Linked DNA regions of Homo sapiens: region 1 is linked to region 2. The links come from fine-mapping of genetic effects on gene expression. A gene starts in region 2. The other region holds a variant in brackets. All regions are shown on one strand. Distances are from middle to middle.

Region 1 (2,927 bases), 110 kb after region 2:
CCTCCCTTGACACCTGGGGATTACAATTTCACCAGATTTGGGTGGGGACACAGAGCCAAACCATATCACCAACTATAGTCACCAAGATGTACAATGGATCTCTTGAATTTATTCCTCCTATCTATATGAAATTTTGGATCCTTTGACCAGCATCTTCTCAACTCCCAACCACCATTGCCCAATTCTCTGGCAACCACCATTCTACTCCCTACTTCCACCAGATCAAAATTTTTAGATTCTACAAGTGAGTGAGATGAAGCAGTATTTGTCTTTCTGTATATGGATGATTTCACATAATATAATGTCCTCCAGGTTCATCCATGTTGTTGCAAGTCACAAAATTACTTTCCTTTTTATTGCAGAATAGTGTACCATTGCATATATATACCACATTTTCTTTATCCATTCATCTGTTAATGGATACTTGTCATTTCTTATCGTGGCTATTGTGAATAATGCTGCAATAAATACGAGTGCAGTGCAAATGTATCTTCAACATACAGATTTCATTTCCTTTGAATATATATGCAGTAGTAGGAACGCTAGATCATATGTTAATTCTAGTTTTAATTTTTTTGAAGAACTTTCATGCTTTTTTCCACGAAGGGTATAATAATTTAAACTCCCACCAACAGTGTGCAAGGGTTACCTTTTCTCCACATCCTCACCAATACTTGTTATTTTTTGTCCTAGTTTTTTTCTTTTTTCTTTTTCTTTTTTTCTTTTTTTTGATATGGTGTCACTCTGTTGCCCAGGCTGGAGTGCAGTGGCATGATCATAGCTTACTGAAGCCTCAAATGCCTGGGCACAAGCAATCCTCCTGCCTCAGCTTCCTTTGTCTTTTTGATAACAGCCATTCTAACAGGTGCAATTTGCTATCTCATTGTGTTTTTGATTGTATTTCTCTAATGATTAGTGATGTTGAACATATTTTCATATACCTGTTGGCCTTTTGTATGTTTTAAGAAATATTTATTCAGGTCCTGTGCCCATCTTTAACTGGGTTGTTTTCTTTCTATTGAGTTGTTTAAGTTCCTTGTGTATTTTGAATATTAACCCCTTATCAGATGTGGATTTTGCAAAGATATTCTCCCAAGCCCCAAGAAGGAGAGTGTTGTAATTACTGGGAAAACATTAAGGAGGCTCTTGTTCACTATCTTGTTCTTTGTCTACTGATTATGATTTGAGAGAAGAGTTCCTTAGGCTGACTGTCAGCAAGAGCTATGTATCACCGATTTCATGGCAGTATATATTTTATGGACTCTAGGAATTCATGCCCTGGATTTTAACATTTGCTGCCAGCAGACTCAGAGCTGAATGTGTGCTACACTTCTCCCAAACATACTGGAGTGC[A/G]TTATGCATTGTATACTAACGTGACACCTGACTTTCTCTTACCTTCCCTAGTCTCATTTTTCCTATCATCCTCCTTTCTCTTCCACTTGTTTTTTATTTTATTTTGTGTGTATTTATATAAGCCAAATTAAAACATTTCTGGAAGAAAATCACTTTATAAGTAAGTAAATAACTACAATATGATATGATCCCAGTTTTGTAATGGCATCGACAAAAAGGATAATTCATATATATATATATATATATATTCATCAAATGTTGACAGTGTCTGTCCTGAATGGTGAGATCATAGGTAATTTTTATATTCTTCTTACATTTTTCTACATTTTCCATAATGAGAAAGATATTACTTTTATAATTTTAACAGTGAGCTTACAACTAGTTTAGTAAGAAATTTAGACAGTTCTTTATGATGATATCTAAATAGGATTAACAAAGGCATTCTGTGTTCTGAGAAGACAAATCTTTAAAAAACTGAAACTACAATAATCGCATCTTAGGAAAACTGGAAGCAACCACACATTAGAAGAAAAATTACAGTACGTGGAACCCTTCATGGGTATGTAATAATTTAAAAAGTGATTTATTTTTATTGGTGTAAATTTAAGGGGTACAGATGCAGTTTCGTTATATGGATATATTGCTACATAGTGCTGAAGTCTGGGCTTTTAGTGTTACCATCATCTGAATAATGTACATTGGATATATTAGGTAATTTCTCATTCCTTATCCCCTTTCCGTCTCTCCTTCTGAATCTCTAATGTCTATTATTCCACACTCTATGTCTACATATACCTATTATTGATTATAGCTTTCTTTTATTTATTATGGAAACTAAATAAAAGTGATTTAAAAAAATATTTGGCTGGGCACGGTGGCTCATGCCTGTAATTCCAGCACTTTGGGAGGCCAAGGCAGGTGGATCACCTGAAGTCAGGAGTTCGAAACCCGCCTGGCCAACAAGACAAAACCCCATTTCTACTAAAAATACAAAAATTAGCCTGGAGCAGTGCTGGGCGCCTGTAATCCCAGCTACTCGGGAGGCTGAGGCAGGAGAATAGCTTGAACTCAGGAGGCAGAGGTTGCCATTGAACTCCAGCATGGGCAACAGAGCGAGACTCCGTCTCAAAAAAAAAAAAAAAACTTTGTGAAATACTATACTTTGGGTCCTGATTCAGGAGGACTTCCACTGCCAAATGCTGTAATCTATCCCAGGTTGTTATGGCATTAATTGTGGTAATCATAACAAATTCTATAAATTTTGTACGCACAATGTGATATACAGATATACTGTGTTGCCTATGTGCTACAAAGAACATTTTTATTTCATTCTTTTTTCTTTCCTTGTTTCCTTACTGTCTGGACAGTTTCTCATACAGACACTTTGAAAATAGAGATACAAGACCAATGTCTTAGCTTAGATCAGTGCACAGAGCTGTCACTCTAATCTGCAACTAGACTCCTCCCAAGGGAGATGGAGAAAAGCTCAGTAAGAGCTAAAATGTCAAGCTATTATAAATCTCCCTCTTTGAAATTAAATATTGTTCATTTGTTCATTCTAAATAGCTGGGGTT
Region 2 (2,927 bases):
ATGATCTATCTGAAAAAGAAATCAGGAAAACACAATCCATCATAATAGCATCAAAAAGAATAAAATAGAGGGTGGAACAAGGTGGCCAAATAGAACCTTCCAGTACTCATTCCCCTGCAGGGACATCAAGTTCAACAAATATCCTCACGAGCCCAGGCGGCACAGTGTGAAGACAGAGTCTACCTCCTTAGGAAGTAAAAGGAATGTTAGTGTGGGATTTTGCATTGGAGGCTAGTGCTGACCCCACTGCAGTGGAACACAGCACTGGGCAGAGCCTCCAAGGCCCTTGATTCTAGGCTGGAGGCCACAGAGGGAGCATTTAGACCCCCGCCCCGGGTCAGAGGGAAATCTGCTACCTCAGCAGGAGGAATCCAAGTTCCAGTCCACTTCACAACCACCTAACTAAAGTGGCCTTCCGCCAGACCCTAAAACAAAGATTTGCATTCAGGTAGATTATTTGGAAGATGATTTAAGGACGTACCAGTGCAGGAGTTGTCGCGGGACAGTGAGACCAGGGCAGTTTGACAATCAATAAAGGGTGCATCATTGGCAAGCTACCTGTGAACAAAGGGAGCATAATTCCACTGGACAACACCAGGAGGCAGTGTTATACAAGCCTAAGGGTAATTCCACCTGACCAGGTACAGCACAAAGATATGTGGCCTCCAACTCCCAACATCCTGGGCTGAATAGTGGTCCCAGACCCATAGTTTTCAAGTCTATCTAGCCTGCCTGAGGACATGCCAAGAGAAAGCCTTCGCATAGAGTCCCGAGTTCACGTGGCAGGACGCCAGAGGCATGTTCTAGAACAGTAGGTGCCGAAGGCACAGCACAAGGAAACACTCACTGGTGGAATGTTCTCAAAACAAAGAAATGATAAATGTTTGAAGTGATAGATGTGCTAATTATCATGATTTGATCATTACACAATGTATGTATGTATAAGAACACCACATTGTACCCTGTAAACATGTATATTGGGTCAATAAAGAAACAAAAATTATGTTGTATAGAGAAAAATGCATAAGAAACAGCAAGAGTTGTAGATCAATACCATGAATGTAAATAAAAAACACCAGCATAAACAAAGCCATATGACATATATCACCCTCATACCACACACATGGGGCTCTTTCAGACACATTGCCCAGTGCCTTCAGGTAGAGAGGCCAGTGGGAATGAGGATGATGGATGAAGGGAAGAAAAATTTTTAAAAGAAGTCTAATGGGAACTGATGAAGAAAGTATACCATAAACTTGGAGTGTGATTAAAGCCTTCCATCTTCCTCTTTTGCCTCCTCTAGGTTACCAGTTCTGCTTTTCCTGGACCTGTTCCAAGCTCTCACGTTCCACATCACACATGGGACATCTAGTGTCAGGCTCCCAGAGAGCAGGAACCAGGTGAAATATAAGAGCACAGTCCTCCCAGCCGGTGGCATGGGGATAATCGGACAATACAACTCTCCACCCTTTTTTATGGTAAGATATGAATAAGGGGTCCACAGGAGCAACCTGAGTCCCTGCAACTACATTTCCCAGGGGCCCCTGGGGTAACCCTAATGTGACTCTGGGGGCGGGGCCAGTTGGACATCCAATGAGAGCACTTCCCCTGCAGACTTTGGAAGTGAGAGCACTTCCTCATAGACCTTGGATGTGGGAGGATTGCATTCAGTCTAGTTCCTGGTTGCCGGCTGAAATAACCTGGTAAGTGGAACTCTGTAAGGGGCTTTGAAATTGGGGTTTAATCCTATCTCAACTGTGAGTACAGGAGAGTAGGTTCTACACGATGTCTACATTTCAAGTATAAGGTTGCTCAGAAAGTGTGGCTGGCACATACTTGGAAGCTAATGCTGTCACTACTCCACAGCTTAGTGGTGACAGTTACAGGTCCTTGATTCAAACTGTTGGGTTTACAGTCACAGCCACTTTATAGCTGTGAGAACTTGGCCTAGTCACTTAGTTTCCCTAAAACTCAGTTTCTTTTTCAGTAAAATGGAGCTACGAGTACTGCTTACTTAAAGGACTTGTTGTGAGGATTACATACGTGTATTAAAAGATAACTAATGTGTTTAAGGCAACTTTCTCAACAGGATTTCCCTCTTGGTTACTTGTAACAGTGACGCTCACCCTCCTCTGTCCCCAGTGGTGTGTGTCCCAAAGGACCCAGTTAATCCTACAGGCAGCAAGCTCGTAATAATTCCTGCTCCTCTTGCACTAGCTGATAAAAAGCCCCTAATGATCCTGGATGTCCAGGAAGATTGAATTCTGTTGTTTGCAATGCCTATGGGAATTCCAGAGGGAAGTTTTTGTTTTTTTGAGGCAGAGCCTTGCCCCATTGCCCAGGCTGGAGTGCAGTGGCGTGATCTCAGCTTAGTGCATCCTCCTCCTCCTGAGTTCAAGTGATTCTCCTGCCTCAGCCTCCTGAGTAGCTGTGATTACAGGCACCCGCCACCATGCCTGGCTAATTTTTCTATTTTTAGTAGAGATGGGGTTAATTTTTGTATTTTTAGTAGCGATGGGGTTTCACCGTCTTGGCTAGGCTCATCTCGAACTCCTGACCTCAAGTGATCCACCTGCCTCGGCCTCCCAAAGTGCTGGGATTACAGGCGTGAGCCACCACACTAGGGACGAAGTTTTATTATGGCCGAAGGACACTTACTGGAGAGGGTCTCCAGGAGGTATGAATGACAAAAAAATTTAACTCCTTCACCGTCAGACCGAGAGCATCACCCCCTGAACATGGACTTGCAGAATTCCACAGAAGAGAGGAGACTGGCCTAGACAGACAGCCCCAGGAGCTGAGGGCCCAACAGGCTTTCTACCCTGGATGCTGCTCCCATGCCCTGACATGAGGCCCACTACAATGGTATACTTGTTTGCTCTTTCCTAATTAAGAAACAAACAAACAAAAAATCAGACATACTGTTT

Direction of the effects. Positions count from the first base shown, and alleles are read on the strand shown. Sizes are in standard deviations (SD) of each study's normalised expression.
In carriers of allele G in region 1, the expression in transverse colon of the gene that starts at base 1,632 in region 2 tends to be higher than with A alone (small effect, 0.12 SD a copy in GTEx).

Evidence for each region.
Region 1: its variant is fine-mapped to the expression of NAT1 in transverse colon (GTEx, PIP 0.96).

What each region holds. Positions count from the first base shown.
Region 1 is chr8:18,322,207-18,325,133 of GRCh38, forward strand. No RefSeq gene overlaps it. Among named protein-coding and RNA genes, the nearest start is that of NAT2, 68 kb to the right of the region's middle. The variant A/G (reference allele first, on the strand shown) is at 1,354.
Region 2 is chr8:18,208,478-18,211,404 of GRCh38, forward strand. It overlaps NAT1 (N-acetyltransferase 1), which reads left to right and starts at 1,632. Exons shown (of 3, transcript NM_000662.8): 1 at 1,632-1,703.